7 linked regions of the Homo sapiens genome follow. The protein of the gene in region 1 purifies or fractionates together with the protein of each later gene. This does not show direct contact. Each region holds a gene or a part of one and is shown in the gene's direction. Other genes may lie near its edges. The genes, in order: NIT2, PGM1, RNASET2, TOR1AIP1, PEDS1, TIMM9 and LYRM4.

The links.
Region 2: the proteins of NIT2 (region 1) and PGM1 fractionate together in Homo sapiens (co-fractionation; one large-scale study listed by BioGRID). This does not show direct contact.
Region 3: the proteins of NIT2 (region 1) and RNASET2 fractionate together in Homo sapiens (co-fractionation; one large-scale study listed by BioGRID). This does not show direct contact.
Region 4: the proteins of NIT2 (region 1) and TOR1AIP1 fractionate together in Homo sapiens (co-fractionation; one large-scale study listed by BioGRID). This does not show direct contact.
Region 5: the proteins of NIT2 (region 1) and PEDS1 fractionate together in Homo sapiens (co-fractionation; one large-scale study listed by BioGRID). This does not show direct contact.
Region 6: the proteins of NIT2 (region 1) and TIMM9 fractionate together in Homo sapiens (co-fractionation; one large-scale study listed by BioGRID). This does not show direct contact.
Region 7: the proteins of NIT2 (region 1) and LYRM4 purify together in Homo sapiens (co-immunoprecipitation; one large-scale study listed by IntAct). This does not show direct contact.

The regions. Positions count from the first base shown.
Region 1 is NC_000003.12:100,351,757-100,355,256, forward strand, and holds part of NIT2 (omega-amidase NIT2), read left to right. Parts: intron 1-647; coding exon 648-746; intron 747-3,015; coding exon 3,016-3,071; intron 3,072-3,420; coding exon 3,421-3,500. UniProt on the Homo sapiens protein: Has omega-amidase activity. The role of omega-amidase is to remove potentially toxic intermediates by converting 2-oxoglutaramate and 2-oxosuccinamate to biologically useful 2-oxoglutarate and oxaloacetate, respectively.
Region 2 is NC_000001.11:63,648,911-63,652,410, forward strand, and holds part of PGM1 (phosphoglucomutase-1), read left to right. Parts: intron 1-2,758; coding exon 2,759-2,942; intron 2,943-3,500. UniProt on the Homo sapiens protein: Catalyzes the reversible isomerization of alpha-D-glucose 1-phosphate to alpha-D-glucose 6-phosphate. The mechanism proceeds via the intermediate compound alpha-D-glucose 1,6-bisphosphate.
Region 3 is NC_000006.12:166,925,551-166,929,050, reverse strand, and holds part of RNASET2 (ribonuclease T2 precursor), read left to right. Parts: 3' UTR 1-3,500.
Region 4 is NC_000001.11:179,902,785-179,906,284, forward strand, and holds part of TOR1AIP1 (torsin-1A-interacting protein 1), read left to right. Parts: intron 1-1,181; coding exon 1,182-1,238; intron 1,239-3,500. UniProt on the Homo sapiens protein: Required for nuclear membrane integrity. Induces TOR1A and TOR1B ATPase activity and is required for their location on the nuclear membrane. Binds to A- and B-type lamins. Possible role in membrane attachment and assembly of the nuclear lamina.
Region 5 is NC_000020.11:50,136,724-50,140,223, reverse strand, and holds part of PEDS1 (plasmanylethanolamine desaturase 1), read left to right. Parts: intron 1-3,500. UniProt on the Homo sapiens protein: Plasmanylethanolamine desaturase involved in plasmalogen biogenesis in the endoplasmic reticulum membrane.
Region 6 is NC_000014.9:58,421,032-58,424,531, reverse strand, and holds part of TIMM9 (mitochondrial import inner membrane translocase subunit Tim9), read left to right. Parts: intron 1-436; 5' UTR 437-524; intron 525-3,500. UniProt on the Homo sapiens protein: Mitochondrial intermembrane chaperone that participates in the import and insertion of multi-pass transmembrane proteins into the mitochondrial inner membrane.
Region 7 is NC_000006.12:5,215,951-5,219,450, reverse strand, and holds part of LYRM4 (LYR motif-containing protein 4), read left to right. Parts: intron 1-2,712; coding exon 2,713-2,833; intron 2,834-3,500.

The DNA.
Region 1 (3,500 bases):
GGGATCTAATTAAACTAAAAGAGCTTCTGCACAGCAAAAGAAACTACCATCAGAGTGAATAGGCAACCTACAAAATGGGAGAAAATTTTCGCAACCTACTCATCTGACAAAGGGCTAATATCCAGAATCTACAATGAACTCCAACAAATTTACAAGAAAAAAACAAACAACCCCATCAAAAAGTGGGCGAAGGACATGAACAGACACTTCTCAAAAGAAGACATTTATGCAGCCAAAAAACACATGAAAAAAATGCTCACCATCAGTGGCCATCAGAGAAATGCAAATCAAAACCACAATGAGATACCATCTCACACCAGTTAGAATGGCAATCATTAAAAAGTCAGGAAACAGCAGGTGCTGGAAAGGATGTGGAGAAATAGGAACACTTTTACACTGTTGGTGGGACTGTAAACTAGTTCAACCCTTGTGGAAGTCAGTGTGGTGATTCCTCAGGGATCTAGAACTAGAAATACCATTTGAGTAAGGTAACTTTTTAAAGAGAAGGTTCCATGGCTCTGGCTTCCTTCTACATCTGAGTTAGCCTGAACTATCCTATTTTTTAAAAGAAGGATCTATCTACTTGGGTTAGAAAAATGTCAGATTTATAATGTACGATTTACCTCTTTCCTGTCTATTGACTACAGGGCTGTTGATAATCAGGTGTATGTGGCCACAGCCTCTCCTGCCCGGGATGACAAAGCCTCCTATGTTGCCTGGGGACACAGCACCGTGGTGAACCCTTGGTGAGTAAGGCTAAGTGAGAATAGGCTCAGTCGGAGCTTGAGCTTGAGTGGTGGCTCGTTGGCAGATGGGTTTTCTGGTTCCTGAGCAGCCAGGCGCTCACTTCTCACTCCCATTTCCCCACATATCCTGCCAGCTTTCTGCCTGTCTCTGTGAGAGGAGCTTCCATTTGAAAACCATGTGAGAAGCAAATCACCCTGCTCTCATGATCAAGCACTTGGCCTTAGCCCTCTTCTGAGTTTCTGGTGACCTTCACTGTCAGTCATACTTGGATCACATGGGGAAACAAGGCAGCAGTGACAGGCAGGTTGTAGTAAGAGACTCTGAAATTTTTGGTTAAAATTTAAGTTGGCTGACTAGTCCCAGGGTAGGAATGAGTTACAGGGTGAGGACTTTGCTTCCAGCATAATGATCAGAGGAGCAGTCAGGATGGTTCAATAAGTGAAACTATGACCCTCTCCCCAACAAAAGGGTGAAGCATTTTATTACTCAGTGGAGCCAGCACATAAGCCTGCCCAGACAGAATTACAGTCATACGCTCATACGCATTCCTTACAGTCTACATTTGTACAGTTTACATCCTACTTTCACAACATGGTCTCAACTTGAACTCTCAGGAAATTGTTCTTATTAAGCCCAGTTTATAGATGGTAGAATTACAGAGGAAGCGACTGGAATTCCAGATGTAGCGGCTAGACCCAGTGTTTGAATCCAGGATATTTGCCTTCAGAACTTGGATGTATTCCACACTAGTTCTCTGTATGAAAGCACACACACACACTGGTATGTATGTCTACATTTCAGGATGAGTATACCAGTAACAAGACTGAGAAGAGTTAAATGTTACTGTGGGGTTCCTGAGGGTTCTGTCTTCTGCCTTTATAGGTAGGGCTCAGAGCTCAATGTGTGTGGTGGGGAGGCCTTGGAAGATATGACTAGTGTGAGATTCCAGTTGGCCTCCTGCACATTAGGCTTGGGGACATTGAAGGACTAAGTTGACTTGAAAATTTTCTTGAACTTGCATCAGGTTCCACTGTCCAGAAATCTTTGAATGCCAGGGCAAATGGGGAAGAATCAGAAAAGAATTCAGTTACGTGTCATAAATGGTGGTGCTTGTATTTGTAACTCATTTGTGCCAAAAGTCTGTCTGTGGCTATCTGGTAAACAGAATCAGTTGTTATGTCAGATTATTTTGGAGAAGGTTCATTTCTCTAGGTAAGGGTTTGAACCCTTGCTCTGGGCCAAGAGACTAGACACTGGAGATAGTTTCTTTTTTCTTTTTTTTTTTTTTGAGATGGAGTTTCACTCTGTCGCCCAGGCTGGAGTGCAGTGGTGCAATCTCAGCTCACTGCTGCAACCTCTGCCTCCCGGGTTCGAGCCATTCTCCTGCCTCAGCCTCCGAGTAGCTGAGATTACAGGTGCACACCACCACGCCCAGATAATTTTTGCATTTTTAGTACTGATGGGGTTTCGCTTTGTTAGCCAGGCTGGTCTCGATCTCCTGACCTCAAGCGATCCACCCACCTTGGCCTCCCAAAGTGCTGGGGTTACAGGCGTGAGCTACCGCACCCTTCCTGGAGATGGTTTTACAGGTCAGCCTTACCCTGGATTGATGAAGGAGTGTGGCTGTTCCCTAGTGCAGGGCTCCTGCCAGTGTGAGGTTACCCTCCATCCCCCCATGCCACTTCTACCCAGTCGCCAGAGGTTGAACTCTTTCCCTCAAATCTGAAACTGAAGCCCATTAACACAGGGGTTCAGGTATCACAGCCACCAGGGCAGAGACCCCAGCAGATCTGGGGCCCTGCCTAGGCCCAGCTTCACCACTCTCAGGGAGGGTAGCAGCCCAGGCAGGTATGAAGAGTGGGTCTGGACTGCCATTGTAAAGGGGGGGTCCACTGAAATGCACTCATGAGGGCATGAGATGGAGCTTCCTGTTGGTGGTAGGTAGCTCTATTGCCAGATCTTTATAATCATCAGATAACCACCGTCTCCTAGTGATTTGCAATTTATGAAACATGATCCATAATTTTATCACTAAGCCCTCACAGAGCTCTTATTTCCACTTTATAGATTAGGAAATGGAGATTTAAAATGCCTTCCCATAAGGTCACAGAGCTATTTAAATGATAGAACATAAATCTGTACGACTACCTTCTTGTTTTCAATCTCATACTTTCCCCTTTGGCCTGTGAGCTTGGGAGGAAAAAACAGAGACCTTGAATATCACCAAACATCAGTGAATCCACTCATTCTCTTCTGCATCTTTTTCAGGGGGGAGGTTCTAGCCAAAGCTGGCACAGAAGAAGCAATCGTGTATTCAGACATAGGTAAGATTTTCCTGGGCATGGTTTAGGTCTCTGATGTCCCCATTGTTCTGAGGCCAGACTCCATGGCTGGGAAGTCCCTGTCATTTGGAGGGGTTCCTTTATGCCCCTTCTCATTGATCTCTGGGGATATTCTAGGGTCTGGTTCTCTGGCCAATCCCTGGGGAGTGTATCAGCTTGAATTTTCTTGGTTTGGTTTGAAATGATGCCAGGCCATCTGTGCACCTAGATAAGACCTATGTTACTAAGTTACTTACTAAGACTCTGGTGGTTTATACAGTCAGGGGAAGAAATCCCCTTGGTTAGTGAGGAGTTGCAAATTATTAATAGTGCACTTTCCTGTTTTTTGCAGACCTGAAGAAGCTGGCTGAAATACGCCAGCAAATCCCCGTTTTTAGACAGAAGCGATCAGACCTCTATGCTGTGGAGATG
Region 2 (3,500 bases), on another chromosome or scaffold:
CATTGGGTGGACATGATCATAACATTGGATTTGGATTCAGAGAAATGGATTAGAATTTTATTTCTTCCCCTTACTAGATTGGGGAGCCATTTAGCTTTTCTCTGTACTCAGTTTTGTCATCTGTAGAAATGGGAATAACAGTCCAGCTGTTGAGAGGATTAAATGAATAATGAGTCTGAAAATGTTTTGTTAACTTTGGGGCACTGAAAGCCTAGAAACTTTTTTTCATAAATTATAGAAACAGTTATGCTTAGTCCACATCGACTTTTCTGCCTTGTGAAATAGGTCCCCAAGGGCTATATACTTGTCAATAATTTTTTTAATTTATTCAACAGATATTTACTGTATACCCGATTTCCATCGGGTACTTGGAATTCAGCAGTGAACAAAATACTTAGAATACTTAGTAATTATTCCTTATCATGCGTACTTCTATTTTTAAAAAGCATTAAAAAATTTTTGACAGTAGTACTTTTCACTAATTCCAATTTGCCTTTCCCCCAGTTAGTGTAAAAATCTAACAAGAATTTTTCTGGACCTCAGTATTCCAATTATAGAGAGAAAATATGGTAAAAAGGATATTAGATGAATTGTTTATGTATAAGAAATGAATAGGTGTAATTTCTCTGGACCTCAGTTGCCTGTTCTATAAAATGGGTGAGTTAGACTAGAGAATTTAAAAAATATATCCCAGATTTTATAGTCCGTGATCTCTGGATAGTCAAGAAAGAATTCAACTAAGTAAATTAAGCTCCTTAATCAGAATTATTTTATTAACTTTGGACGGATTCATTGATCTCTTTCTCTCTCACGTTACTGTTTTGTGGAAGGAATAAGTAATAACTACCTGACACCACACAGTAGCCCTGGGAACCAAGGCAAAAAAATCCCTACTTTATAACAGACAGAAAAACCTGGTCATTCAGAACAGCAGTCATGAACTGTCTAGAACCTAGAGTATCATAAAAACAAGGCCATGTCTGTTTTTGTGCCCTAAGCACCCAACTCATAGTAGAGACTGCATAAATACGTTTTGAACCGATAAATGAATGAGTTAACAGGTGAACAATAGCCAGAGTAGAATAAGGTTAGGAGGGGTTGTTCAGAGAAAGGGTCACACCCTTGAATTAGTCACAATCCTCCATATAAAAACTATTTTAACATGATTTTATTAATTATCAAATATAATTGCTAACCAAGTATTACAAATCAAATCCTTAGTACCTGCATTTATGATTAGTTAAAACTCCATTATACCTTCCACTTACTGAACAAAAGCGCTAGGCACTTTTGCATGCATTGTCTCACTTTAGCCTCAAAACAGTTATTGATAAGGTAGCTGAGATTCTGAGAGATAGGGCAGCTGGCCCTGTAGTCACACAATTAATAGCCAATAGAGGCTGGATTCATAGCTCATCTGTCTGATTGCAAAACCCAGACTCTTCTATTCCACCCCTCTGTGCCTAGGGTTTAGAAAACATTTCTCTGGAGTACCCAGAGGTCAAAAATGTAAAGCACAAACACCTGGTTGTAATTTCTTGTTGTTTATCATGTTAACTAGGGGAAAGAGCTGACTTTAAGATTAAGGGGACTGTTTGGCCCTTGATTCATAGAATCCTGGAGCCAGAATAGGCTGGCCTTAATTCCTCAGCATTTCTCATGTCTCAGAGGTGTCATCTTGCATATATGATATCTATTTCACGATTACAAATAAATATAGACTCTGCTATCTTGAGCTTCTAAAAAATAACTCTCTCAAGAGGGTGTATGCCACTAGGTCAAGAAAAGCCACCTGTACAAGTCTTTAACATCATAAGAAAGAAGTCAAAAAGAATTCTTGAAGGAAAACTCATCTTTATAGAATTTCATTTGTGATGCACTTTTTTCCTTGGCCCTTTTTCATCCGCACTGGGCCTCTTCTGTCAGGGTGAACCCAAAGGACCTTGGACCAAAATCCACTGCCACTGAAAGGAGGGAGGCAGAACTTAAAATAAAACAAAATTTAAAAAAAAAAATTGGGAGAGCATCAGGATAAACAGCTAATGCATTTGGGGCTTAATTCCTAGGTGATGGGTTGATAGGTGCGGCAAATCACCATGGCACATTTACCTATATAACAAACCTGCACGTTCTGCACATGTATCTTGAAACTTACTAAAATTAATGAAAAAAAAAAAGGCATTTTAGATGTAAAGAGTCAGTGTTTGGCGTCTTCATCTGGTCGGTGAAAACTTGGCCCTGCTTTAGGAAGCTCCTGTGGAGCTGGAACTCTGCTTAGTCAAAATCTCAGCAGCCTCAGGCAGGTCTCAGGCTGGGAGCAGGCCCAGCATTCACCCCAGAGAAGCCCAGGGAGCTTGGAGGAGAAGTGCCTGAGTCACGTGCTCCTTTCAAGAGAGTTCTCCAGAGATAACATTGCTTTTCATTTTACCTCCTCAGGATGTGGTGACTAAATGTTAGATAGCATCTTTCAAAAGCCTTTGAAACATCTTAGAGCTTTATTCTGTAGAAATGCCAAGATGGGTGTTTTCTGCTTATTCAGAAGCTCATAACCCTTCCCTGAAATCCTCCAAACCCTTCCTTTCATCCCTGGCCTGTTCCATCCCCAGTGACTGACAGGCCTGTATTTTTTTTGCCAGCTTCTTCTGAAGTTAGATAGTTTTGCGGGAGGGCCAAACAAATGATGAAGAAAGTGCTGACTGATAGGCCTTGGTGTGATCTGCAGTCAGCCCGTGGGCCTCAACTTCGTGACTTCTTCCAGGTATGATTACGAGGAGGTGGAAGCTGAGGGCGCAAACAAAATGATGAAGGACTTGGAGGCCCTGATGTTTGATCGCTCCTTTGTGGGGAAGCAGTTCTCAGCAAATGACAAAGTTTACACTGTGGAGAAGGCCGATAACTTTGAATACAGCGACCCAGTGGATGGAAGCATTTCAAGAAATCAGGTAGAAACAGACCGGTGTGTAAGTGAGAGAGAGACCTCAGAGCTTCATCTCTGACATCTCAAGGGAAAAATTAAAAAGTTCCTGTTGGCTATTTTTCTTTTGCTGCTGTGTTTTTCTAGGGTAGCTGTTCTTACCTGGTTTTCTGCTGTCCCACGTGACTCTCACATGCACTCGTTGGGACAGTGGTTTATGCCCTTGTTCTGTGCACTGTCCAGTACCCTCATTCTGGGATTCTTAACCTGGACTCCAGAGGGATTTTTGCACTCTCTGGAATGATATGCAAGATGATGTGTCCATTGTACATGCAGAAAGGAGCCCCAGAATCTAAGAAAGAGGGAGAACTGTGGGAACTTAGATGTCAACTCCTCTCTTTTCTGTCAGCAGATTATAGCAGAGTGACAGCATGTAAGTGGCATTATACTTATACGTTTCTCTCGTATGTTCTAATTTCTAAAGGAGAGAAAAATAGATGAGGCATTCCCAGACTTAGAAACGTTGACCATCGTCATTCGCAGCACATGAGTGGCACCCCACCTAACACAGCAGTACCTGGCAAGA
Region 3 (3,500 bases), on another chromosome or scaffold:
GTGTGTCCTAGAACGGTGACTTTGCCCCTCCTGCCCTAGGAGATTTGGGTGTATTCACAGAGCAGCCATCTCCTGTCTCCGTCAGAGCAGTCTCTTCCAGGTTACTGGAAGGTCAGTTTCTGTCAGGCCTCACTTCCTTCTTATCAGAGGGTAGCCAGGTCCCTGCACTGGTATCTATTTAGAAATGTACATGGAGCCCCCAGCGAAATGTGCCTACATTGTGTGTTCCAGAACCGGAGGTACCCTTACCTTCTAGATATGTGATGACATGGCTCTCACGTCAGGCAGACTGCTGCACCCACGCTCTCGGCCTGCCGTGCAGGGATTTCACTCGTGGAGTGAGGCATCTGGGGGCTGTGCAGTGAGGAGCTTTCCATGTGTTGTTAAGACAACCTGTTAGCATTGTCTTCTCCCGCGTCTCCTGGCCTCTTCTCTCTTTAAATCCTTTTCTCTGTTTGTCTTAATCACATTAACGTCCTATTTATGTTTTATTCAATATACATTTAAAATAGAACTTACTATGTGCCAGGCATTGTGTTCAACACGTGAAATATTTAATCCTTAGAATAACCATATTGTCAGCATAATTTACAAAAAAAAAAAAAACAGCTGTATCAATGCCTGTGAATATTCGGCTTTACTCGCCCATTTAAAGAAGAGATTTTCAAATTGGCTCAAACCAAAACCTCACTTCATGGTGTCTACAAGACAGTCTGAAATGCAGAATGTTCAGAGAGAGACAAAGGTTTACCAGGCAGATGGGACGGTGAGAAAGTAGGTGTCGCAGTCCTGATCCTAGACTCAGTGGCCTCTGCGTCCCCCGCAGGCATTAAAGGAGACACAGGACGGCCTCTGGCCCTCTGGAAACAAGCTCTGCAGTAAGAGCCTGAGACAGGCAGCACCCAGCCAGGCCTGACAGCTTCTGCAGACAGACAGAGTGAGATGATGGGGGATTTGATGGAAGCAGTCCCTGTATTTTGTCTCTTCTGTAATGGAGGAGCTGAGCCCTCTTCTGCAAGCTGTGGGGAAGGCTAGCGGAGCCCAAGGGTCCAGGGTCCCCACCTTGTCATTGTCCCTCGGCCCTTCTCTGAGCTCATTTCTGTCTCCAGTGTTTTTCTGTTGGCTTGGCAGGGCAGGATTTGTTTCTGTCGGGAACTGATGATTTGTGTTTTGATGCCTGTGAGAGGGACAAGATCTGATTTGTTTTGCACCTGGAAGGGCGTGATTTCCTGCATTTGCTCTGCGTCCTCAGGGAGTGGGTGTACTTTAGAGTTGGACTCTTAAGCCTCAGAGTCCTTTAAATGATGTCAATTCTTTTTTTTTTTTTTTTTTTTTTTGAGTCATTTTGCGAACACAGGGATCAAGGCTTGGGTTTTATCTTCATTATTCCCAGAGGAGCTGGTGAATTTGAACAGACTTCCTATTCAAATTGCATTTATTTTATAGCCTTGGGGGGTCAAGGAAAGCAGCTCTTCAGAGGCTGTCTGCAGTCGGCTGGCCTTTGCGGTTTTTAAAGAAGCCATTCTTTTTTTTAAGTAGCGTGTATTTATTATATGAGTGTGAGCATTTGAGAGCGGATGGGGACGCCAACAAGGTAGCATCCTGGTGGGAGGCATGGGCTGCGGAGTGCTGGTTTCCTGCCATTGTCACGTCAGCTAAATGGAAGAAGGCACTGGTGAGGGGCTGGATGGTTCAAAACATGAGCACAAGCAAATGCTTGGCTCTCTTAATATTCCTATTTTGGCCTAGAGCTCAGGAGCAGGTAGAACATGAGCGTTTGATAACCTGCCTCAGATCATGTAAGTATAAGGCACTTATGAGCCGCAGGAGACAGAAGGGGAAGACTCTGCGTTTAAGGTTCAGTGATGGAGATCAGATCCAAGCACATGTTTTTACATCATTAAACAAGTAGGTCGTGCATTTTCCAGATTCAACTCAGGAAGATGCAACTCTGACCACACGGTTCTCGCTGTAACTGGGCGGAGGTGACTGAGAAATGCCTCCCATGTGAGCGGGGTCTCAGGCTCGTATGTGTGGAAGGAGGAGCAGGCCAGGCTCTGGGATCAGAGCTGGGGGTACAAGTGTCTCCCAGGGGGACAAAGGAGCAGGCGCATCTCAGGATGGAGAGCAGCCAGGAGGGGCAGCTGGCCCGGGTCTCAGCCAGAGCAGGCGTCTGCCTGGAGCATCTCTGCGGCACCATGGAAAAGAGGACCCGTGGACTAGGCCACAGGGATGAGTGGAACTTATGGTGGAAAAAGACACCATAGGTAAAAGCGAGACAAGAAAACCAGGTTCCCATGAAACTCCTTCAGACCAGCCCCTTCTCAGCAGGGCTATTGCTGTACCCAAGAGCATTTCTCTTGGCCTGGGAGGGGACAATGCTTTGTCACCTGGAAAGCAATCCCTCTCTCCAAGCTAGTAGTGGGAGATCATTATGCGCTTGAATAACTAACAGTAGCAATTGTATCATATTCAGAACTAGATATCTTTTCTTTTCTTTTCTTTTTTTTTTTTTTTGAGACTGAGTCTCACTCTGTCGCCCAGGCTGGAGTGCAGTGGTGCGATCTCGGCTCACTGCAACCTCTGTCTCCTGGGTTCAAGCAATTCTTCTGCCTCAGCCTCCCGAGTAGCTGGGACTAGGCACGCCACCATGCCCGGCTATTTTTTGTATTTTTAGTAGAGTTGGGGTTTCACTGTGTTGGCCAGGCTGGTCTGGAACTCCTGACCTCAGGTGATCTGCCTGCCTCAGCCTCCCAGAGTGCTAGGATTATAGGTGTGAGCCACCGCGCCTGGCCCAGGTATCTTATCTTTCCACCGAAACTTTTGCCTCCATCTCGGTGAATGACATCACCATCCGCTTATTCCAGGTAGAAACCTCAAAGTGAACTGGAAACTTTTTAAAAAAATTTTGCCTAAATTGTGAAAGTATTCTGAATTATATTCAGCTTATCCTTCTCATTACTGACTTAGTTCAAGCCTCAGTCTCCCATCTGGGCCATGCATTGACTGCCACGCCACCTGACTGTCAGTGCTGGACGCTGGCACCGTGTTTGTGCCACTCTCCGTAACCAACCATGGCTCTCTGCTCCCAGATCACACCTCCCCAGTATGGCGGCTCAGGGACATTCCCTCAATCCCTCCTGCCCTGTTGGCAGTGCCTCCACCCACTCCCCACAGCCCATGAGGGCTCTGCTTAGCACTTCCTTGTGCCTGGATTCTCCGCGCAGTTTGGGTGGCCTGGAGTGCTCTTCTGCTCACCTAGTTTAGCAAGTTCCATGGGATATCAACACCCAGTTCCATGGTTGGCCGTTAAGAGTTCTTTTGCAGTCCTGGGTGGCTCTGCGCCTCCACGCCCAGGGACCAGGGCCTCTTCTCTTCCAGCTCTTGTTGTGTTACATAGAAGATGCCAGCTGGATGGCACAGGGGAGGGCCGTACAGTGTAGATGCGGACAATGTGGCATAGGTGAGGACTGGACAGCAGAGACAGTGGCTGCATGATG
Region 4 (3,500 bases), on another chromosome or scaffold:
ATGCAAAGCACTTACCTGGCACATAGTAAACACTAAGTGCTGTTATTAGTGTTCATACATATTACATGAAGCTCTAAAAATTAGAGGTTAATTAAGCCATTTATATAGCCAATAGTTTGCTGCCATTGCTACCAGCATAACTATTTGGAAGTACATAAACCTCAGGTCCTGTGATTGCGCGATCGCACTTCAGCCTGGGCAACAGAGCGAGACTCCATCTCAAAAAAAAAAAAAATATGGGCACTTCACCTTTTTGTATCAATGTGTCTGTTTCCAAAACAGCAACCTGATCACTTTTAAACTAATTTAGTTATAAATTCTACTTTTATTTGGGAAAAAATGTTTTTAAGAAGAGTAGACTGAAAGCAAGGCATGGTGATAGGTACCTATAGTCCCAGATACTGAGGAGGCTGAGGCAGGAGGATCCCTTCAGTTCATGACCAGCCTGGGCAGTAACGTGAGACTCCATCTCTTAAAAAAAAAGAAGAAGAAGAAAGAAAGAAAAAGAGTATACAAAAATATTGCCCACTTGCAATAAAAATTTAAAGCAAAAATGGATATTAATGATTTCAAGATGCTCCACTGTTGTAAACTTTGAAAATTTTCCGCAACTCAAAGGTTTTATTATGTCATTACCTTGGGGCATGTTCTGTATCATAACAATTTTTTAAGTGGTTATTAGCTAATATTTTAGATGTGACATGACTCTTTAGAAACTTTTTTAACCTTTTTTTTTTTTTTGAGACAGAGTCTCACTCTCTTGTTCAGGCTGGAGTACAGTGGTGCGATCTCGGCTCGCTGCACCTCTGTCTCCCTGGTTCAAGCAGTTCTCCTGCCCTAAGGCCTCCCGAGTAGCTTGGATTACAGGCACGCGCCACCACGCCCAGATAATTTTTGTATTTTTAGTGGAGACGGGGTTTCACCACGTTGGCCAGGATGGTCTCAATCTCCTGACCTCAGGTGATCCGCTTGCCTCAGCCTCCCAATGTGCTGGGATTATAGGCAAGAGCCACTGCACCCAGCCTAGAAATTTTTTAAATAAATTATGCATCCACGTTTTTAACCACCTGGGAGTTACCCGAATATTTTTGCTCTTTTTATTAATTTCTCACTGTTGTCTTGTAAAATGTACAGTCTAAAAGTTGGATATTATTTATAGTGTACTGTTTTTTATTTTTTAGATAAAACCACCAGATCATCTAGTCAATATATAGAATCATTTTGGCAGTCATCACAAAGTAAGTAAAGCTGTGTTTACAGTGTCTTCCTGTGAGCTTGGTCAAATGATGTTCCTATTTTTGAAGATCCTCTTTTGAAATTTAACGTAAATATTGAACAAGAGGAATAATGAATGCTAAAAAAAAACTTATCCGATATCTCTCTACCACTTGACCTTGCTTATTGAGTTATTATTCTCTATACCCAAACCTGAATTTGAACTTAAAAAACAAACAAAAAACTACTACTTCCTGTGATTTGTTGAATGTCTTTGCTAGCAGTATAAATGGGTTGATTGCTTTTATTTTAACAGACTAATGTAGTAGTTTGAGCCTATTTATATGCACTTATTCTAATAAGGACATAAAATTTTATATTAGTACAATTTCAACTCTGTTGTAAAAGTTTGGAAGGATGAATAAATAAGTGATAAAGCACATGTAATAAAAAGTTAATGGCAAGCTTGGTTATGGGTATATAAATATTCATTTCAGTCTTACAACTGAAAATTTTTGTGATCAAATATTGAGAAAGTATAACAAAAAAAGATTGGAAAGTCATATACCAAAATGCTAATAATGATTTGCTTAAGAATCATTGGTGACATTTTTTTAACTTTATTATTTTCTTTTTTCTTTTTTTGAGACAGGTTTTCACTCTGTTACCCAGGCAAGTGTAGTGGTGCCGTCATGGTTCACTGTAGCCTCGAACTCCTGGGCTCAAGGGATCCTCCTGCCTCAGTTTCCTGAGTAGCTAAGACTACAGGCACGTGCTACCATGCCCAGCTAATTTTTAAATTTTTTGTAGAGACAGAGTCTCACTATCTTGCTCAGGCTGGTCTCAAACTTTTGGGCACAAGCATTCCTCCCACATCAGCCTCCCAAAATGCTGGGATTGCAGGTGTGAACCATTGCGCCCAGCCACCTTTATTATTTTGTTACTACTGTTTTTTTCTTTTGACATTTTTAAATCAAGTCTCCCAAAATCTGAGTTAGTTATTAATCAACCAAAAATATCTTTGTATGTAAAAATCTTCAAGAACTTTTTTTTTCTTCCACATTACTTTCTTTTCTTAAGAAAAAACTTTTGGAAGGCCAGGCGTGGTGGCTCATGCCTGTAATCCCAGCACTTTGGGAGACCAAGGCAGGCGGATCACTAGGTCAAGAGACCGAGACCATCCTGGCCAACATGGTGAAACCCCGTCTCTACTAAAAATATAAAAATTAGCTGGGCGTGGTGGCGCGTGCCTGTAGTCCCAGCTACTCGGGAGGCTGAGGCAGAAGAATGGCGTGAACCTGAGGGGGCAGTGCGGAGCTTGCCGTGAGCCGAGATTGTGTCACTGCACTCCAGCCTGGGCGACAGAGTGAGACCCTGTCTCAAGAAAAAAGAAAAAAAGAAAAAGCCTTTGGAAATCTTTTTTAAAATCATTGTATTTCTAGAATTCAATTTTATATTTTTTATTTTAATTTTTAATAGGTTCTGGGTTTGTGACTATAAAATGAGACATAAAATGAATTAGCTGCTGGGAAAAAATCAGTTGTGGAAAATTACTCTTCGAATTATTTTATGTATTTGCCCTATTTTACTCCAAATCTTTGATCTTTGGAAACTCTTAAATGTATCTACCCGTATAAATGATATTATACCCATGCAGTGAGATACTATTTAGTCTGGGGACGGTGGCTCACACCTGTAATCCCAGCACTGTGGGAGGCCAAGGCAGGTGGATCACTTGAGGCCAGGAGTTTGAGACCAGCCTGGCCAACATGGTGAAACCCCGTCTCTGCTAAAAATACAAAAATTAACCACGTATGGTGATAGGTGCCTGTAATCCCAGCTACTTGGGAGGCTGAGGCAGGAGAATCGCTTGAACCCAACAGGCAACGGCGGCAGTGAACTGGGATTGCACCACTGCACTCCAGCCTGGGTGACAGGGCAAGACTCCATCTCAAAAAAAAAGAAATACTATTTAGAAATGAAAAATGAGTTAGTTCATTGTATCCTAATGAAAAGTTGATCAAGATATATTTCATTGACTTTAAGATACTATTGATTTTATGTATCAATGAGAAAGAAAAACCATCCAGTTAAACTATGCCATACCATTAATTAAAAGATATATCTGTAGATCAAAGGGCATTTTTTAAAAAGTATGTCTTAGAATTTGATGAAAATATTAAAACGTATGTATCCACTTTTTTAAAAGTATATTTTTAGTATAGGCTGAAAACAAAGCTGAGAGAATATCTGTCTTATTTACCATAATATTTCTATGTTCAATG
Region 5 (3,500 bases), on another chromosome or scaffold:
GGAGGTGGTGATGCGTTGTCAAATTCTGGAGGAGCTGTGAAAGGTGAGCTGCCAGAATGTGCTTCCAGGTTGGCTGTGGAGGTGAGAGAGAATTAGCTTGACTCCAAGGTTTCTCTCTTGAGAGATGGAAGGGATGAAGCTGTCATTCACAGAGATGGAGAGAGGTCATCGGCAGAGCAGGCCTGAGGGAGATGCTTGAGATGGCCGCTGTTGAGCTAAGGAGAGGTGTTGAGCAGGAAACTGGAAATCTAGGTCTGGAGGCAGGGAGAGGCAGCTGGAAATAGCAATCTGGGGGTCCGGCCGGGCATGGTGGTTCACACCTGTAATCCCAGCACTTTGGGACGGTGAAACCCTGTCTCCACTAAAAATACAAAAATCAGCTGGGCATGGTGGTAGGCGCCTATAATCCCAGCTACTGGGGAGGCTGAGACAGGAGAAATTGATTGAACACGGGAGGCAGAGGTTGCAGTGAGCCAAGATCGCCCCATTGCACTCTAGCCTGGGCGACAGAGTGAGACTTCCTCTGGAAAAAAAAAAAAAAAAAGAAAGAAATCCGGGGGTCATCTGTGTCAAGATGAAGCTCCTTATCTCCTAGGCTGGCTGAGCACCCCCAGGGGCTGAGTCTCCCGTGTTTCCAGGCTGGGGAGGAGGAAGAGCCAGCAAGGGAGGCTGGGATGGCGCTGCCAGGGAGATGGGGGGAGAACCAGGGAGGTCGGGGGAGAACCAGGGAGGGCTTGCAGGGGCCAAGAGGAGAATGTGTTTCCAGGAGTCTTGGGGGTCGACTGGGAACAGCCACCGAGTGGACCAGCAAGGTGGCCAGTAAAGGGACCTTTGGATTTAGCCACGTGGAGGTCATCAGCCACTGTGACACGCACATCGTTGTCGTGAGTGAGTGGGTGAACAAGTGAAGGCCGTAGGAGCCCTGAGCTTTTGTTCCACGTGGAGAAGGGGGAGGAAGTGTTTGGGTTGTGAGTTGGCCCTTAAAGGAGCAGAGTCCTTCGTGGACCTTGGGAGAAGCCTTCCGGGCAGAGGGCACAGTGAGTCCAGAGGTCAGGGATGAGGTCAGAGAAGTCCCAGGCTCGGGTCGTGGCCCGTCCTGTGGCTGGAAGTGGAGTCTGGATCTGACTGAGCTGGAAGGCGGTAGAGACAGGACTGGGACCCAGGACCGAAACCCATGGATTTGCCCTCAGTGCATTCACTTGGCTCCTCAGCCACGCCTTCCATCTCCACGCCAGGCCTTTGAGGTGGGCAGGGAGGGGTGAGGAAGTCCCAGCTGGGTGACCTCTGGGGAAATGGAAGCCCGCACGGGCCCAGCGACTACCTCAAGTTCCCCCGTGAGTCAGGGTAGCCTGGGGTGAGCCGTCTCCCATCCCTCTCCTTGTCCCAGTGTTCTGCGGGGAAGGGTGGTAACCAAGCCGAAGCTGCCCCCAGGGGGAGCCGGCTGCCAGCTGCCACCACCCCAAAGCTGGGACAAAGAGGCTTCTGTGTGCCTGTCTGCCACCCCTGCCCCCATTAAAGCAGCCTCAGACAGCAGCCTGGAGTCACTGCCACCGGCAGAGGCCGCAAGATCACGGAGCCAGGGGGAGGGCTCCTGGTCTCCTAAGATGATTCCTGACTTCTGTCCAAAGCAGACATCCCTCCCTGCTGGGCAGCGTGCAGGCGCCAGGCCTTGACCATTGGACAGATGGCAAGACTGAGGCTCAGCAGAGAGCTCACAGGAGCTGCGTTGGGGGGATGCTTGCTGTGTCGTGGGACCCACCGGGCCCTTTACCCAGCAGCCCATTTTATTAACTTCTCATAGTTAAGGGAGGTAAATGTCCCCATTCTCCATACCTGGGTGCGAAGTCTCCCTAACCCTAACCCTAAGGTTGCATCATCCTGAATGACTCTAGCGAGTCTCTGGCTACTCACCAGCAGCCCTGCCTTGCCCCTGCCACCGTGTGACCTTGGGGAGTTCTTACCCTCCTCTGGAAGGTCAGGATGGGGTGGGGCCTGTTACTGTGGACATGAAGTGAGATTGTCCACTTTTTGAAAAACAGACTTTATTTTTTAGAACAAGTTTTCAACTTACAGAAGGATGGGGCAGATAGTACAGAGAGTCCCCATATGCCTGGGGCACGCAGTTTCCTCCATTATTCACATCCTAAATCTTACATTAGCGGGGCACATTTGTTACAGTGTGTGCCAGTGTTGATACATTATCATGAGCTGGAGTCCATGGCTTATTCAGATTGCCTTAGTTCTTCCCTAATGTCCTTCTTCTGTTCCTGGATCCCATCCAGGGTATCACATGGCCTTTAGTTGTCATGTCCCTTTAGGCTCCTCTTGTCCAGTTTTTTTTGTTTGTTTGTTTTTTGAGACGGAGTCTCACTCTTGCCAGGCTGGAGTGCAGTGGCGCAATCTCGGCCCACTGCAACCTCCGCCTCCCAGGTTCAAGCGATTCTTCTGCCTCAGCCTCCCGAGTAGCTGGGACTACAAGCGCGCGCCAGCACGCCCGGCTAATTTTTGCGTTTTTAGTAGAGATGGAATTTCACCATGTTGGCCAGGATGGTCTCAATCTCCGGACCTTGTGATCCACCCTCCTCGGCCTTCTAAAGTGCTGGGATTATAGGAGTGAGCCACCGCGCCTGGCTGACCTTGACGGTTTTGAGGAGTGCTAGTCAGGTGTGTTGTAGGCTGCCCCTCTGTTGGTATCTATCTGATGTTTTTCTCATGATTAGACTGGGGTTACGGGTTATGAGGAGGAAGAGTTCAGAGGTGAAGTGCCATTTTCATCACATCATAGCAAAAGTACAGACTGTCAACATGACTTATCACTGTGATGACTCTGATCCCATGACTAAGGTAGCAGATGTCAGAGTTCTCCACAGTTAAGTTACCCTCGGCTGGGTGCGGTGGCTCACGCCTGTCATCCCAGCACTTTGGGAGGCACTTTAGGATTTGTGAGTGGGTCGCTTGAGCTCAGGAGTTCACTGGTCAGCCTGGACAACATGGTGAGACCCTTGTCTCTACAGCTGTAGTCCCAGCTCCTCACGAGTCTGAGGTGGGAGGGTCGCTTGAGCATGGGAGCTCAAGGCTGTAGTGAGCTGTGAATGGCACCGCCACACTCCAGTCTGGGCCACAGTGGGAGAGTCTGTCTCAAAAAAACAACAAACAAAAGTTACTCTGCTCCCCCCACCCCGCCTTTTTTTTTGAGATGAAGTCTTCCTCTGTCACCCAGGCTGGAGTGCAGTGACTCGATCACGACTCACTGGAGCCTCAACCTCCCAGGCTCAAGCAGTCCTCCCACTTCAGCCTCCAGTAGGACCACAGGCACATGCCACCACACCTGGCGAATTTTGTTATTTTATATACAGACAGGGTTTCGCTGTGTTGCCCAGGCTGGTACTGAACTCCAGGACTCAAGCAATCCTCCCACCGTGGCCTCCCAAAGTGCTGGGATTATAGGCGTGAGCCAATGCGCCCAGCCTTCCTCCCCTCTTTTTTTTTTTTTTTTTTTT
Region 6 (3,500 bases), on another chromosome or scaffold:
GTCATAATAGCTTATAAGACATTTTATAGGTCTTAAATAGGTCATTTTATAGGTGCAATGGGGAAAATACTGGATTTTGAAGTCCAAAGACCTTAGTTAGGCTCCAGCTGTCCAGTTACTATCTGTATAAGTGACCTCATGTAAGTTTCTTAAGATTTCTGAACCATCCCTCCCAGAATTAGTAGGAAAATCATAAGGGAAGTGTAATGTATACTTATACCTGGATAAATAAGGATAGCATGACATTAAGTATTTTTTTTAATAGTAACACATATGCCAAAGAATTGTAACCTCAGAATAGAGGAAACTAATTTCACTTACTAAAAAGGAAGAAACTTTAAAAAAATAAATGATTAGCCAATAGAAGTTTACATTTCATTGAAAAGACTATTAGAACTTGAAGGGGACTTAGTAATCATATTACCTCATTTTTCAGGTAAGAATCAGGCCTTATTGGAGACATTCAAGCAAAGGTTGGACAACTACTTTTCCAGAACAGAAAGGAAACTCATGCATCAGAAAAGGTTAGAGCTTGATGACTGATAAGATCTCCCTTTATTCTTAAGTTCCCTGGTTCTAGGATATATTTTGTTTGCCACAAGAATAACAGCATCATTGTAATCATTCCCAAGATCTAAGCCAGTGATTCTTGAATTTGCTTATTTCTTCTCTCCCTCTCCAGGTTTCAGGGATATAATCAGAAGGTAACCCCTGATGGGTCTTTGCCACAGTAACATAAATTTGCTGTAATATATGGAAACTAGGATCAAATAAAAGAACAACCACATTACTGCTACCTGTTCTCACCATCAGGTGGTTTATGTGGCTGGTGGAATTTGTTAGTCTAAGCTTACTATTAAATAACTGCGAAGTGAATAGTGAAAAATTTAGAAGACCTCAAATTAGCAAGTAACTCTGAAAATCATTGATTTACTCAGTCATCTCCAGTATTTTCTCTGAACCAGTTGCCTACAATTATGTATACCATAATCTTTTTTTTTTTTTTTTTTTTTTTTTGAGACAAAGTCTCGCTCTGTCACCCAGGCTGGAATGCAGTGGCACAATCTCAGCTCACTGCAGCCTCTGCCTCCCAGGTTCAAGCAGTTCTGCCTCAGCCTCCCGAGTAGCTGCGATTATAGGCATGTGCCACCATGCCCGGCTAATTTTTGTATTTTTAGTAGAGACGGGGTTTCACCATGTTGGCCAGGCTGGTCTCAAACTCCTGACCTCAAATGATCCACCCGCCTTGGCCTCCCAATGTGCTGGGATTACAGGTGTGAGCCACTGTGCCTGGCCTATACCGTAATCTTGATAGATACTGGTGACTACCGAGGATAGCTTTAGAGATTTAAGCAGACTTAAGAAAACTTCTGATTGTTAGCTCTTGAGTTCAACTGTTAGGTCTGGAAAAAAAAAATACCAAATTGGTCTGGGTGCAGTGGCTCACGCCTGTAATCCCAGCACTTTGGGAGGCTGAGGTGGGTGGATTACCTGAGGTCGGGAGTTCAAGACCAACCTGGCCAACATGGTGAAACCCCATCTATACTAAACAAAAATTAGCCAGGTGTGGTAGTGCATGCCTGTAATCCCAGCTACTCAGGAGGCTGAGGCACAAAATCACTTGAACCCAGGAGGCGGAAGATGTAGTAAGCTGAAATTGCACCACTGTACTCCAGCCTGGGTCTCAGAGTGAGACTCTGTCTCAAAAATAAATAAATAAATAAATCTCAAAAATAAGTAAATAAATAAATAAAATACACAATTGAGTGATTCTAAAGAAAATAAATCATAGTGTTAACATAGTGGTCTGTGAATGGTAGAACTATCTTTTGTTTTTCAAATTCTCAATAAATATATTACTTTTATAGTATGACAGACTTTATTTCACTGAAAAGAGGAAACATACACTGTTTAAGTAATGTATATTAATACATTAATGAATAAAGAAGATTCATACCAACAGCACTTGGGGCATTCCTCATATATGTCTTTTCAGATTTTTTAGTAACAACCATCATTTATCACCATGAGATATATAATAAGGACAAGATGTGTGTAGAGGCAGCACAGGGTACCAGTATGAAACTTAGAGAACATTTAAAGATTTCATACTTTCGACTGGGCACAGTGGCTCATGCCTGTAATCCCAGCACTTTGGGAGGCCGAGGCAGGAGGATCACCTGAGGTCGGGAGTTTAAGACCAGCCTCACCAATGTGGAGAAACCCCCGTCTCTACTAAAAATAGAAAATTAGCTGGGCGTGGTGGTGCATGCCTGTAATCCCAACTGCTTGGGAGGCTTAGGCAGGAGAATCGCTTGAACCTGGGAGGCGGAGATTGCAGTAAGCTGAGATTGTGCCATTGCACTCCAGCCTGGGCAACAAGAGCGAAAACTCCGTCTCAAAAAAAAAAAAAAAAGATTTCATACTTTCTGTCTCTCTGACCTCGGGTTGATAAGTCAATAAATAAGAATTTTAACCCAAAGAAATACAAGGATGGAATTAAAAAAAAAAAAAAAAAGAACAGATTTTGGCATTATAAGAAGGAAATCAGCTCTGTGTTATTTTTTGATGTGAACTGTAGAAAGTCCAGTTTGCTGGGTGTCCTCCTGAGGTGCAGTGAGTGTACTGTCCTTATTCGACAATTCAAAAGGCTCAGGTCTAGTAGATGACCTTTTGAACTTTCAGCTAGGAGCCTATTGGTAAACAAAGTTCCTTAATGCATATTTTATTACCCTTGTATTTTTTTTCAAGTTCTCACAAAACAGTGATTTCATTTAATACTTCTTTAGAAGTTGTTTTACCAGTTCTTAGATCTTTTCAGACTGTTTTCTGAGTGGGAATCCAGAAGAACTCTAGCTTGGAATGCTTGCTAACAGTATCTACCACGCTGCATGTTGTTCTTTGGCAGGTACCAGAAAGTTATACAATAACATTTTTTTTCTTTATTATTAAACTTTTTATTTTGAGGTTAGTGTGGATTGAAATACACTTCCAACAATTAACACAAAGGTCCCCTGTGTCCTTTACCCAGTTTTCCACAATGGTAACATCTTACAAAACTGGAGTACAATGTCACTCACATCCAGGATACTAATATTGATACAATCAAGATACAGAATATTTCTATTACAAAGGTCTTGTGTTGCCTTCTTATAGCAACACCTACTTTCTTCCTACTCCTTCCCTCATCCATTCCTTAACCCTTGGCAACCATATGTTCTTCATTTCTGCAATTCTGTTATTTCAAGAATGTTGTATAAGTGGAATTATACAGTATTTAACTTTTTAGGATTGGCTTTTTTCCTCAGCAGAATTTTCCAGGCTTTTGCAAGTATCAATACCTCATCCTTTTTATTGCTGAATAGTATTACAGGTATAGATGTACCAATTTGTTTAACCATTCACCCACTGAAGAACATTTGGGTTTTCAGTTTTTGATTATTAAGAATAGAGTTTCTACAAACATTCACATATAGGATTTCCTGTGAACACAAATTTTC
Region 7 (3,500 bases), on another chromosome or scaffold:
AGGAGGGAACCATTACAGCATTCATCTCGAAAGTGCATCGAAAATTTGAATCATGACTCTTGATTGCTTTAGACACATTTAATTCCAAGATCTAGAGCTGCTTTTCTTTAGGTAAGGACTTTGGAGAGCTGGGGAGACAAACAAGTATACATAGCAGAATATCCTGACCCTGGGCCTTGAGCTCAGTTGATATAAATTGTTGAGTGTTTTAAGCTATTTTCTCATTTCCTTAAACTTTGGAAGACCTTAGGTCTTTACATTCCAAACAGTACTCCTTTTTTCCTAGCTATTCTAAGCTAGTTACTAGCTTTTAGAAAAATGAGTTTAGCAATAGCTACTGTTGCCCATTTTGTTTTTCCAAGAAGCCCATGCAGCATACGAAATGAAAAATTTAAACAATAGATGATTCCTGGAGGTAAATTCATGTTATAAACCAATTTTGCCTGTGGAACAAATATTAGAATTAAATTATTTTGTCCCCTCTTTGCTGCCATCATTGCCAAAAAAGAAACTGCTTTGGAGGAGTATGTGGTTGTCAAGAAGAACAGTGATGCTGTGTTTTATAAATAGCCATTAGGCTATGCAAGAAAGTGCCAGAAATTGCTGTTAATTTACCTAGCTGCTATCTAAAATCTTGTTAGATTAGCAGCTGCACCTGAGGAGAGTCTGTATCTGATGTATTCCATTTGTAAAATCCTCCCATATCCCTTTAGAAGTGAATGAGCCCCAGTTATTTAGCAGCTGCTAGTACATGGATTCCATGCCCAATCGCTGTAGCCCTTTAGGATTGATACTGAGCGCTCAGCAGCTCCTCTGAAATACTCCAGCTGGTTCACAGAGGGTTAAGATCAAAGTCTCAGCAGTGTCTTACATTCTAAGTACCGGTTCCTAAACTCTTCCCTTCTCCTTTATGATTCCTAGTATCATAAGATTTAGTTTTACTCTTGCTTTTAAATGCAAATAGACCTGACATTTGAATTTTTTAATGTAAAATGCCTTTTTACTTTAAAAAACTTTATCTGAAACAATTTGTCCTTTTTAAGATAAAGTTTCCCAATAAGTTATATGAGCTCCCAACACCCCCTCCGCGCTGCTCCCAAGGAAATTTATATCCCCTCCTCTCATTTCTTTGCCTGTATTTCCATTCTTCTGTTGCTAAATATTACTACTGGCATCACATGGATTCTTTAACCGGTGCTCCAAGTTAAAAGCAGAGCAGTCTGTGATCATTAAGAAGACGAGAGAGCCAGGCACTGTGGTGTGTGCTTGTAATCCTAGCTCCTTGAGATGCTAAGGCAGGAGGATAGCTTGAGCCCAGGAGTTTAAGACCAGCCTGGGCAACGCAGCAAGTCCCCATCCCCCAAAATTTTTTTTAATTAGCCAGGCGTGGTGGTGGGTGCTTATAATCCTGGCCACTTTGGAGGCTGAGGCAGGAGGATCACTTGAGCCCAGGAGTTTGCAATTGCAGTGAGCTATGATCATGACACTGCCTGGGCAACAGAGGGACACCCCATCTCTAAAAAAGAAAAAAAAAACATAGAGAAAATGGTGTCTCACATGCCTGGCTCAGTCTGCTTCTCCTTAGTCTTATGCCTTTCAATCTGGAGTAGTTGGGGTAGAGCTAGAGATAGGCCATAGCCATCTGAGTATGAGGCTGTGTCTAAGGACTGCTGAGCTGTCTGTTGTGGCTAATTATCCACACCACTCTACCTTCTGTACACACACTATGGTGTGACTGTAAGGATGCAGGATGAAGGCAAGGTTATGGCATGAGGAGAGGGAACAGTAATTGCATTAAGGCATAACAAGTGTTAAGAAGAATAGCTTTCATTTATTGAGTCTTTCTATGTAACAGGCTTTGGGCCAAATTCCAGACACACATTATAAAGCCTAGTCCTCCCAGCAGCCTTTAGCAGTATTATGCCTTTTTGACAGATGAGGAGACACGGCCTTGTGTTAAGAAGCTTGCCCAAGTTCACACAAACAGTAGAAGCTGGAGCAAGGCTACAAACCCAAGCCTGTCCGATGGGCAAGCCTTGCTCTGGAACTGCTGTCCTGTACTGCAAGTGAGCTGTCTGGTTGGGGGTGGGTGGTAGGCGTGTGCACTTTCAAGATGGAGGTAAAGAAAGCGTGTTGGCCTAATTCCACAGGTTCAACTGTGGTGGGATCCTAATGTGGACAACAGAAAGGGAAGTGAGAGCCAGAATATGGGACAAGGACTGGAAAGCATAGGTCACTATCTGGGTACATGCAAATACGATCGTCATGTAACCTCTGAATTTTTTCTTCCTTTCTTTTAAGACAGGGTCTCGCATTGTCGCCCAGGCTGAAGTGCAGTAGCACCATCATGGTTCACTGCCGCTAACCTCTGAGTTCTTGATTTGTCTCTGTACACTAAAGGTTCAATTATCCATGTAAATGGAATGAAGCCAGATGTGAATAAGGCTAAAGAACCAATAATCTAAGGAACACTTCAGTAGCAGTTTGCCATTTGTATGTGACTTGTTGAGTAGATTTATTTTCCTAAATCTGTTTGCTTAGTCATCCCAGAATGGTAGTGGATCAGCCTGCGCCACGAGCAAAGATCAAAGTGGATTATCCGTAGGGGAAGATTAAACAGTTAATTCTAAAGGAAAAACTTTAAAATTCATTTGAAAGCATAGCCTCAGACACGCTGACACCTTTTCTTTTTTTTCCTCTGAATTCATTTAGAACATATGCTGTCAGGAGGATAAGAGATGCCTTCAGAGAAAATAAAAATGTAAAGGATCCTGTAGAAATTCAAACCCTAGTGAATAAAGCCAAGAGAGACCTTGGAGTAATTCGTCGACAGGTAAGATGGTTCAATGATGTACTGTTTTTCATTAAGAGCTTTAAACTTCGACATATTCCCCTTGATTAGACAGCCGTGCTTTTGGTGTTGGTGATTTACAGAGCAGGATCATGAAACTCTGTTCCTTGTACTAATACAGACATGTAAAGGTGAACTCTCATATTTTCAGATTCAAGTTGAACTTAAAATACCAGCTTTCCGGAATTTCCAGGGAGTGTATCCTTCTGGAAAGCTGATACTTTTAAGTATGAGAAACTTCTGCATTAATTTTTTTGAAAGCTAAGTTTTTGTAAGATGTATCGCACATGTGTACTTGGATATATTTCAGAGTATAAATATATTCTCCCTTTCCTAGTATTTTTAATCATAATTCAGGATAAACAGAACGTGGCCCTTTTCTTGAAGACACCATTGTGGGTGGTGAACCTGAATTACGTTGCCACATGGGAGGTGCATCTGCAGGTGCAGATGGTGTAAAGTACAGCTGCTTGGGTGCTGACCCCATAAAGGAACCTGGAGGGTGTGTTAGTTTTCGTTTTGTGGAAGTGCCAAGGATCACCTTGACTTGTGCTTCCTTTTCTCATTCTCATGAGGTGGGTGGAGCATGTGCAGCGGCATGATCTCCTGCGTGGTCTGATAACATCCGCAAGAGTAATTAGAACGTCAG